Homo sapiens: one gene and its partners. The protein of the gene in region 1 interacts with the protein of each later gene in a biochemical or structural test. Each region holds a gene or a part of one and is shown on either strand. Other genes may lie near its edges.

Evidence for each region.
Region 2: the proteins of ISLR2 (region 1) and IGFBPL1 interact in a biophysical measurement, tested with the Homo sapiens proteins (one large-scale study listed by IntAct).
Region 3: the proteins of ISLR2 (region 1) and LTF interact in a biophysical measurement, tested with the Homo sapiens proteins (one large-scale study listed by IntAct).

What each region holds. Positions count from the first base shown.
Region 1 is NC_000015.10:74,133,530-74,137,277, reverse strand, and holds the end of ISLR2 (immunoglobulin superfamily containing leucine-rich repeat protein 2 precursor), read right to left. Parts: coding exon 2,286-3,748; 3' UTR 476-2,285; downstream 1-475. UniProt on the Homo sapiens protein: Required for axon extension during neural development.
Region 2 is NC_000009.12:38,407,369-38,411,016, reverse strand, and holds part of IGFBPL1 (insulin-like growth factor-binding protein-like 1 precursor), read left to right. Parts: intron 1-1,799; 3' UTR 1,800-3,648. UniProt on the Homo sapiens protein: IGF-binding proteins prolong the half-life of IGFs and have been shown to either inhibit or stimulate the growth promoting effects of the IGFs in cell culture. They alter the interaction of IGFs with their cell surface receptors.
Region 3 is NC_000003.12:46,454,879-46,458,526, forward strand, and holds part of LTF (lactotransferrin isoform 1 preproprotein), read right to left. Parts: intron 1,521-3,648; coding exon 1,412-1,520; intron 1,101-1,411; coding exon 918-1,100; intron 565-917; coding exon 417-564; intron 1-416. UniProt on the Homo sapiens protein: Transferrins are iron binding transport proteins which can bind two Fe(3+) ions in association with the binding of an anion, usually bicarbonate. Lactoferricin binds to the bacterial surface and is crucial for the bactericidal functions.

The DNA of each region.
Region 1 (3,748 bases):
CGGTCTTGTCCCTATGAATCCCATCCTCTTCCCACCGGCTTCTCAGGGAACTCAAAGGCTGATGTGGAGACACAGAAACTGGGCAGTGTGACACCATATACAGCCACACCCCACTACACAGACAGTCTCAAGTGAAAGAGGGTGCCGCACACCCTTGAGTGCAAATATACTTGCACGCACACTCAGACTCCCTGTGTTCAGGGTCTGCAGACACCCGCCTTCCTTTCCTGCAACCTCCCCCTACTCACTTGCAGCCTGCCCTCGTTTTTTGTCACCCCACCCTGGAGTTGGAGACACTAAGAGCAGGGCTGGGTGCAAACACCTGGCAAAAAAATCACAGGATGGTCACGCAAACAGGAAATCACTCAAAAGATTCCAACGGGAGGCTCTGGGGGGGCTCCTTCCTTCCGCGGTTTCCTCCTTCATCGCCCAGGCCTCCTCCCTCTGTCCCCTGACAAAAAGTCACCGAGCCCAGTTCAAATCGATTGTTTTATTGACTGCATACAGACGCGTTTAGAAAAGGGCACGGGCTCCGGGGGGCTACTCCGTCCCAGGCCCGCGCTTGTGCTGCGCTTCGCGGAGAGGGCTGATCCCGAGGACTGAAACTCCCCCCACCCCAACCCCGACGCTTTCTTTCAAAATGGAAAAAAGAACCCCGCCCCGAGTCGCCGCGCCGCGCCCCTCCCCTTCCCTCCCTCCCCGCCCATCCGCCCCCCCGCCCGCCCCCCTACACTACACGGTCACACTTCACAGGACACAGACTTTTCTCCTACAGGGCACGCTTGTCAGGGACTACACGCCGGGCAAACACGATTCCCGCCGAAGCAGGGGCGGGTGGGGCGGGGCGACGCGAGGACCGAGACGCGAGGACGGAGGGGCTCGGCTCCATCCGGATCCCGTCGCACAGTCGCACAGTCACGAGCAGGCTTTGTGCGAACTAGGGCGCGAGCCCTCCAGAGAGCCGCGGCCCGGGAGGCCACAGTCAGCTTCCTCCGCCTCCGGCGCTTTCCAGCTAGGGTCTGGGTCGGGTGGAGCCGCGGGAGCGGCGCTGTTGGGCGCACAGACCTCCGGAAAGCCCAACACACGGACAACGAAATTGGCCCGCGACCAAGTCCACAGGCTCAGCCGCCAAGGGGCGCGCGGTCCTGCGGCGCTTTAAGTTAGGAGAGAGACGACAGAAAACGCATTCCCTCCCTACCCCCCGACACACACACTCGATTTTCCCAGAGGCTGGGAAGGGGGTGTTAGCACCAGACCCGAAATGTCGCTGTCTTTGAAAACAACGAAAACAGGAAAATCTGAGCGCGGAGCTGAAAGGCGCCCCAGGCACCGGGCTGGACTCCAACTGGCCAGAAGTGGGGTGGGGGTGGGAGGACAGAAGGATTTGGTTCCCTGCCGGCAGGAGGCTTTGGAACTAAAAACTAGGGGTTGCCACGAATCCCGGCTTCTGGGAGTAGGGATTGAAAGGGAGGAGGGGCCGGGCGCGGTGCCTCACGCCTGTAATCCCAGCACTTTGAGAGGCCGAGGCAGATGGATCACCTGAGGTCAAGAGATCCAGACCATCCTGGCCAACATGGTGAAACCCCGTCTCTACTAAAAATAGAAGAAATTAGCTGGTCGTGGTGGCGCGCGCCTGTAGTCCCAGCTACTAGGCAGGCTGAGGCAGGAGAATCGCTTGAACCCGGGAGGCGGAAGATGCAGTGAGCCGAGATCGCGCCACTGCACTCCAGCCTGGCGACAGACCAAGACTCCGTCAAAAAATAAATAAATAAATAAATAAAATTAAAAAATAAAAAAAAAGGAAAGAAAGAAAGGGAGGAGGAGGGGTCGAGGTGGGACCCCACAGCACTCCACTGGCCTTGGCTGGCCCCCGAAACCACCGCGTTACCGCGAGGTTTCCAAAGTCTTCGCTCGTTTCCTCTGGCTCCAGAGCCCACGGTGGGGCGGGCTGCGGGGTGGATTTCGCAGATAATCGCGACGGGAATGGAGGGACATAGATATCGCCCACCGTCTGCGGGTGGAGTCTTGCATGGGGTAAGATAAACACTGTGCTTGGCGGGGAAGGGGATTCAGCCCGCAGGGAGAATGGCAGCCGTGGGTAGCAGGGACTGGTGAAATCGGCCCACTCCCTAATAGAAGTCCCTGGTAGTCAAGGTTGGGGAGTAGTAAGGGGGAGGAGTAGGTGAAGGTTGGGGACGGGGGACATAAGTCCTGCCAGCCCTAGACTGCTGCTCCCAGGCACCCTAGGTGGAGGTCGGGAATGGGCGGGCCGGACGGGCGGAGGTTCAGCCTGCCGTCTGCCTGTAGTTGCCATTAATCTCCTGGGCGATGTTGACCGCCTCGGCGCCCAGGGGCAGCCGATCGCTGTACTCAGAGCCCGCCTCGAACTCCTCTTGGTTGGCCTTGGACTGGGACTCCACCAGTGAGCAGGCCGCCAGGCTCTCCTCTCTCTGCAGGTCCCCACTTGGGTCTCCCTGCTCCGCGTCTTCATCAAGGCCCTCCCCCTGCACGTCCTCTGGCTCCTCGCCGCCCGCCTCGCCGCCTGCCGGGTAGCTTTTCTCGGACTCGAGGTACGAAGCACGCGGGTCGAAGTCTGCGGCGATGCGCTTCTCCATAGGGTCAGGGGCCTGAGGCCGCAGGATCAGACGGTAGGGCTTGCCCGGGTGTTTAGCCAGCAGATGGCAGCAGGCGGCGCCCAGAAGGGGCACTGTGGCCAGCACCAGGAGGAATACGCTCACTGCCACTATGACCAGCAGCGATGGGAGCTCCTTCTTGGTGGAAAACACCACTTGCACGTGGCAGGCTTCGCCCGCCAGCGCCAGGCACACGGAGTAGTTGGTACCCGGCCGCAGGCCGCGGAACCAGTAGGCGTTGACGCCTTCCTCTACGCGGGACCACTGCACTGCCGCGCCGCCCCCCGCTGGACACAGATAGAGTAGGCGCAGGGGTCGCCGCCCGGGTCGCGGGGCTCCGCCAGCCCCGCCGGGCCCAGGGCCCCAGCGCGCAGCCAGCGGAGTCAGCTGCACCCGCGCCTCGCGCTCCGCCACATCCAGCGCGATGACGCCCAGCTCGAAGACGTGCGGCTTGAGCTCTGCGCTCTGGTTGAACGCGTGGTTAGAAACGTACCGAGAGGGGTCCCCGTTGCCACAGCGCTGCTCCTCCGCCGGGTCCGCGAGGATCTGGTCTTCGGCCTCCTCTCCCTCACTTGTGTCCTCCTCCGGCTCCGTCTCGGTCTCCCCGAGAATGCTGACCTTGGCCAGGCCTTGGCCTTTGATTTTGCCCTCGGGTTTGGAAGGCAGGACGCTGTTGCCCCGGCCCTTGGCTGTGGACTTGCGCTCAGAGGTCGGGGCCTGTCCGTCGGGTTCTCCCCCGGCGCCAGGCGCGTGTTTTGGGGGCCCGGTTGCTGCCACCGCCACGCGTATTGACGTAGAGTTGGCGCCCAGCTCATTGTGTGCACGGCAAGTGTAGACGCCCGCCTCCTTGGCACTCAGGAGGGGCACCAACAGGGAGCCATTTGCGAGGGCCAGGAAGCGCGGTGTGGCTGGGGGCGCCGGCCAAGCGGGTGCTGGAGTCGGCGTTTGGGCTTGGGTCTGCGTCAGCAAATCCCCATCTCCTTCTCCCTCTCCTTCCTCCGCCCCAACCCCGTCGTCCTCCCCGCTCAGAACCGGTGGCTCTAAGACTACGGTGCCACCGGGGATCTGAAGTTGCCATTGCAGGCGAGGCGTAGGGTGGCCGTCGGCGATGCAGT
Region 2 (3,648 bases), on another chromosome or scaffold:
GCCTGAGCTTCCTTTGTGTGTTCCTGGAGCTCTTCCTTGTTCAGGACACCTGAGCTTCCTTCCTGGGGCTCAGGCCTTGCCTTCCTGTCCTCAGCACTGTGTGCTGCTTTGCAACACATCTCCTTGTGGGTAGGGGCAGAGAGAATCTCTGCATCCCCTCTGGTCAAGGCCTCCTAGTCTGTAGTCACACAGGTGACAGCTGGGGTTGCATCTGTTCCTTGCCTACAGGTGAACTGGGAATTCGGGAAAGGGATCACTTTATAAGCCAGCTTTTGCTCATAAAAATCCCAAAATCTTGCTGGTTCACAGCCACAGACGTTGATCACTTGCTCATGTTCCATGTTATAGCTGTGAGCTGGCTGTGGCCCTGCCCCATGTGTCCCCTCATTCAGGACCCAGCTGGAGGAACAGCTCCAGTGTGGAACATGTCCGTTCTGTGGCCAGGCTGCACACACCATTGCATTTAAAGTTTCTGCTCGGATGTGATGTGTGCCCCGCCCATTTACAGACCAATCATTTTTTTTTTTTTTTTTTGAGACAGAGTCTCACTCTGTCACCCAGGCTGGAGTGCAGTGGTGCGATCTCGGCTCACTGCAAGCTCTGCCTCCTGGGTTCACGCCACTCTCCTGCCTCAGCCTCCCGAGTAGCTGGGACTACAGGCACCCGCCACCACACCTGGCTAATTTTTTTGTATTTTTAGTAGAGACGGGGTTTCACCGTGTTAGCCAGGATGGTCTTGATCTCCCGACTTCATGATCCGCCCGCCTTGGCATCCCAAAGTACTGGGATTACAGGCGTGAGCCACCGTGCCTGGCCTGCACGATCCTCTTACAGGAATGGGGGAGCAGTGGTGAACAGGCACCATTACCAAGGCTGATCAACAGGTGCTTAATAGAACAGGAAAAATTAGAAACAAGTCTGATAGGGTTTCTCAAAAGCAGGGGGATTTTGCCATGGTTTTAGTTATATTATTCTTTCAGCCACTACTGTTGCACACCTTCTGTGTGCAAGGCCTTACTTCTGGTCTGTAGGGGATCACAGAAAAACAAAAAGTGGACATAATTATAATACAAGGAGTGCGATGTAAGGGAATGGGAGGAGATATTAAGGCATGAAAAGCAGCTTAGAACTGGGGAAAATGAAGGAAGAATCATCGAGGAGGTGGCATGAGGATTGAAGGATGGGTGTACGTGAGTAGTTAGAGGCCCTAGAAATGGGGAGAAAAATATGAAAATGTAAAACTGTGAAATAGGAATTCAACAAAGAGTTAGGAGATTGGGTCTTAAAATTGTCTTCCTGATGATATGTGACTTGTTTTATATAGATATGTTTCCAGTTTTAAATATATATATCTATAATTTTCAAATACACGTATATTTTGAGGCAGAAATGATTCTGGGTTGTGAATACATCAAAAGGATACCATGAAAAATTGTGGAATTTTAAGAGCATCACTGCTGCCTAGGTCTTGAGTTCCTTCTGTGACACACAGTATTGCCAGCTCTGGCTTACATACCTCCAGGGATACAGAGCTCACTACCACTGAGAGCCATCTGTGGATTTTCCAATGGTTGAAAAGATCTTATTAAGCTGGAGTCTGCTGCTTTGAAACGTCCACCTTTTGGTCTTAAAAGTACTTCTTGGGACTCCACAGGGCCCTTCACTCTCCACTGGCACCATTTCCTGCTGGGGAGAGATTCGAAGTGAAGGATCATTTCCCCCACCTTCCATGTAACACATAGTTGATTGTAACGGAGCAGGCTTACGTTCTCTAATTCTTTCTCTCCTTTTCTTCCTAGGGTCTTAGAAACATTGATCATGGGATGATGGAAAAGTCAAATAACGGATCTTTGTGCTTCATGAAGAGTTGGAAAACCTGTGTGTGTAGATGACCCCTTTTGTGTGTTTTTAAAAATTAGATGCAAACTAGATCTGTATGCAGATGTAGTTTTTAGCAGGGCAAACAGTGAGAAACGGATTTGCATGTGGCTTTTTTATACTTTTGAAATGAATTGTTCCATGAGAAGTCTTTTTGTAATTATTCTCTTCCAGGGAGATCACAGAACGGCATGTTTGCAATTTCGAAAGGGCTCGTGTCAGCTGTGACTCTTTACCTCATTTGTCTATGACCTATTAGTGGTGCTCTGTGACTTAGTGTGTGTTGTAGAAGGAGGGATGAGGGTCCCAGCTGTCCTCTGCCTGACTGTAACTTGCTGTGTGACCTGAACAGATCCCTTCCCCTCTCTGGGCCCTGGTCCCTTCATCTGTGAGTATGGCATTTTAACTGGATGTTATCAATGTCCCTTTTAGCCCTGCCATCCTAGATTAAGATGGCCTTTTGGGAAAATAACAGGAAGTGTGGTCTTAGTGTTCTTTCTAAAATGGTATTCCCTCAGAAACAAATTCCATTGCTTTACCCCAACGTGTGGACAGCTGGCTGTAGCTCTTCTATTCCTAACTTTTTCCCTTTGAAGGAGATTTAGTTTTAGGTGGGATGCTTTACCAGACTCAGGAGCGCCTTGGCTGGGTCTTTGGAGACCAGAGCATCCATTTGTTAGCCTAGCATTCTCTTTTTTAAAATTTTATTTTGAGACAGGGTCTCGCTCTATCACCCAGGCTGGAGTGCAGTGGCGTGATCATGGCTCACTGCAACCTCCACTTTCTGGGCTCGAGTGATCGTTCCACCTCAGCCTCCTGAGTAGCTGGGACCACAGGCATGCCCCACCACACCCAGCTATTTTTTTTTTTTTTTTTTTTTTTTTTGTAGAGACAGGGTCTCCCTATGTTGCCGCCCAGGCTGGTCTCAAATTCCTATGCTCAAATGATCCTCCTGCCTTGGCCTCCCAAAGTGCTGGGATTATAGGCATCAGCCACTGTGCTTGGCCTAGCCTAGCATTCTCTAAACAGGTGGTTAGAAGCGGTGGATACCAGGCTTCTGACGATCAAATTGTAAAAAAAGGGGTCAGGTGTTATCTCCAGACTGTGGAATTAGATTGTAGTAGAATATATTTTACCTACAAACATTTTGACCTCACCCAAGAGTAAGGCTCTCTTTTTTTTCTTTTTTAATGAAAAAAGAAAGGAGAATATTTGCTATCTTATCTTAAAAAAATAGATCCTTAGGTGATTACAATTTTAAAATAAGAATTGAGAGCCCTTACTATGCACAGTCCTTTAAGTTCATAAAGCTTGATCCCAACTCTGGGAGATGGGGCAGGACAGGTGTTAATGTCCCTGCCTTTAGCAGATGAAGAAACCAGGCTCTGAGAGGAGAAGCTACTTGCCCAAGGCCTGAAGGCCTCTGAAAGAGGAGCAGAGCTCAGGGCACCTGGCCCTCCTTGGTCCCCTCTCTACTCCACGGTGCTGCTACTCAGGGTCATCTCAAAACTATGTAAAGGCAGATGTTGCCAATCCACAGGCTTCAGGGACTCTTATCAAGACTCATCCCAACTTTTAAGGCACACTTTCACACCGCTCACATTGTGCATTACATTTTGGAGTCCTTGTTGGAAGTGAACTTTCCGCCTGTAAGCCTGCCATTCCATGTCTAATATATTGGGATGGCATCACCTTCTGTACTATGCAGCAGAAGGAGACTGGCCTGGGATTCTGGAAACATGAGATCCATTTGCATATTAATCCCCGGCT
Region 3 (3,648 bases), on another chromosome or scaffold:
ATCAGCCTGGACACTGCAGCGGTCCTGCCCAACCAGGAGCCAGGACTGGACATCTCATGACAAGATGCCTTCAGTCCTGCTGTGGTTAGGCAGGCGGCAGAAATTAGTATGAGGAACCCAGGACAACAGGGCAGCCAAGTTGGATTCAGGGCTCTCTGAGGTAACAGGAGGGCCCACAGCCACAGTGACTGCCCGTGGGGCTGGTGAGAAGTTGGGGGCACAGTTGGGCCCGGAAGGCTGGAGGGGAACACACACTGGGCAGGCCTGCACTCTCTTTGGACACACAGCAGTAGGAGAACAGACCTCCTCTCGTCCCCAAGAGCAGGCTGGGCTCTATGTGGGGCCAGAGAAAAGGCCTCCCGGCCTGAGGCCAAGGGACACTTGGCCACTGACGAGAAGGGGACAGGGTCACTCACTTGAAGGCACCAGAGTAGCTGAAGTACGGTTCCTGGGAGGAGAAGGCACATTTGTTTTCCCCTGTCCCCGCACACAGGCGACACAGGTTGGGGAACTGTCCTTTATCTGCACCGGGAACACAGCTGGCTGAGAAGAACCTGGCCACAGCTGTTAAACACAGAGAAGTGGACCACAGAGTGTGAGCCAGCCCTGGTCACAGCAGGTTACACCTCCCATCCTGAGGTCTCCGTGGGCAAGGCCCCTTCCTCCACCCCTGCAGGAGAGACTCTGTCATGGGGCTGGGAGCTCGAGACATGCACCTCTGCCGAGAGCAGACTCAGCTGTGCCTCCCAAGGGCTGCTAGGGTAACGGATCCTGCCAGCAGGATGTTACAAGCTGGCCAGCCTCACCCCCACCTTGATTCATCCCACACTTTCACCTGCATGATCTGTGTGGCCTGTGCTTACAACTGGAATAGAGCCCCCTGCCTGAGGCCACTCACTATCCCCCAGCCATCTTACCTGCCTCAATGGGCTCAGGTGGACCCGTCCAATTCAAGAATGGACGAAGTGTCCCTATAGGGACATTCCATCCAGCGGTCCTGCGAAGGCCTGTGTGGCAGGACTTCAGACCTTGCAGTTCGTTCAGCTGAAAGCTGCCGCCCTTCTTCACCACAGCCACGGCATAATAGTGAGTTCGTGGCTCTGCAAAGGGGCAGACAGAATTGAAAGTTCTTAGCCTGGACAAGAGGGACAAAAACAACCCATCCTGAAAAGTCTCCGGTGGGAAGGGGGAATGCTGTGCTGCAGTTTCCTCACAGCTCACGTGTGTCCTCCTCTCGTGGGTCAGCGTCAGGAGGAACGGCCTTCATCTGGCCCAGAGCCCAGCGACTCCATTCCCTACATGTGTGATGTGACCCAGACTCCACCTCCACATGTTCCCCCAGTCTTAATCCACACAGCTCAGGGCACAGGCTGAGGCCACCGTGGCCTCTGGGTCCCCAGGCAGAACTCACGTCTTTCGGTCCCGTAGACTTCCGCCGCTACAGGTCGCAGTTTGTAGGGGGCCAGGCCTGCCTCGTATATGAAACCACCATCAAGGGTCACAGCATCGGCCCTGTTTTCCTGAAAGTAAAGAGGCCAGACTGGCTTCAGCAGAAAACTCACCCAAACCCAGCAAGTGGGACTTCAGGACCTCAAAAAGTCTCCATGGCTGGAAGGGTCGTCAAAGGGGTCCGCTTTCCATCCTGTCCCCTCACTTCCTATGAGAGATGGTGAGAGCCAAGGACCCCTGTTTTGGGACAGTGAGCACCAGCCCTCTAAGTCCTGAGACTGGCGCCTGCCCTCTTTCTCCTCTGCCTGCCTGTGTCACTCTCCCGATCACACCCCTCACAGTCATCTATATTTGAAGTCGTTTGTTCTAGATACTTTCTATTTTTGCTCTATATTCATTTCTTTTAAGTTCTGTTTTATTGGATAGAAAATATAGTTATTAAGCTATCCTAAAATTTTCATAAGAAACCATGTTCCTCCGCTTCAGCACATTGCTTCCCACATGATTACATATTTCTTTGGTTTGCAATGTGGGATAGTTTAGTGGTCCCCAACTTTTTTGCCACCAAGGACCAGTTTCAGGGAATGTAATTTTTCCACAGACAGATGGGGAATGGTTTTGGGATGAAACCGTTCCACCTCTGATCATCAGGCATTGGATTCTCATAGGGAGTGCAACCTAGATCCCTCGCATGCACAGTTCACACTAGGGTTCACACTCCTATGAGAATCTAATGCCGCCGCTGATCTGACAGGAGGTGGAGCTCAGGCAGTCATGCTCACTGGCCCTCTGCTCACCTCCTGGTCTGAGGTCTAGTTCCTAACAGGCCATCAACCGGTACCAGTCCGTGGCCAGGTGGTGGGGACCCCTGGGATACATCATATTTTGTGGACTGCTTATTCCTCTAAAACTGGATACATTTTCTAACTTCTGCAGAGCCTTTACTGATTTTGTAGACAGCATAATGTTTTCTCATAATGTGGGTGTTCTATCGTGTATTGAATAATTTCCCCCAATGTTTAGCATTTAAGTTTATTTCTAACTGTTTCCTGTGAAGACTGTATTTTCATGAATATCTTTGTCCTCAGTGTTTTTCCTTGTGACCACTTGTGTCCTTGGGTAGGCAGCTGAGGGTGGAATCCCCCAGATGAGGAGCACGTTTCCCCCTGTGACCCGGGCTGCCGTTGCCATTCTGCTTCCAGAAGACTTATAATACCAATTCAGAATGGCGCTGACCGTGAGGACCAGCTTCACTCTTGAATCACCAGCAGGGCAGGCTATCATTCTATTAGCTGTTATTACTATAGAAAATGTGAGTACTAACAAATCGCTCAGGTCTGATTAGTAAGGGGAACATCTCACAAGTATTTTTTATTAATTATGAATTCCCTCTTACTGGTAACTCTGTTCATATCATTTTTCTTCTATGATTCTACATTTTTTCCAATTTGGGTTATTCTTTTATTTATTTATTTTTTCGAGCGGAGTCACCCAGGCTGGAGTGCAGTGGTACCATCTCAGCTCACTGCAACCTCCACCTCCCGGGTTAAAGCGATTCTCTTGCCTCAGCCTCCTGAGTAGCTGGGACTACAGGCGTGTGCCACCATGCCTGGCTAATTTTTTTTTTTTTGTATGTTTAGTAGAGATGGGGTTTCACCATCTTAGCCAGGATGGTCTTGATCTCCTGACCTCGTGATCCACCTGCCTTGACCTCCCAAAGTGCTGGGATTACAGATGTGAGCCACCACGCCCGGCCTTGAGTTATTCTTTTATAGAGTGTAAATAGTAATCATGTGTCAGAGCTGGCGCATATTCATTCATTCCAGTCCTTTCTAATTTTTTTATTTAAATATTTTCTATGGGCTATGAATTACATTTTCTGTATTTTAGAATATCTGTTTGTTTCGTGATTTAGATCATCATTTAAGAGATTTCTATTTCCTCTACAGTTCTGCTAGTTAACCTGCCCCCTAGTTTTTCAATAATACAAGTTTTATTTTTAACCATTTAATCTATCTCAACTTTATTTGAATGAATGGTATGTAGTACTGATTTCAAACAGGGATCTTATTTTCCGAGATCAGACGAGATCAGACGCGTTCAGCGTGGTATGGCCTTGGACAGGATCTTATTTTAAAAGGCAGATTTTGTGGCTTCTTTCACATATATTCAGATTGAGTAGGTTAGAATAGAGCCTAG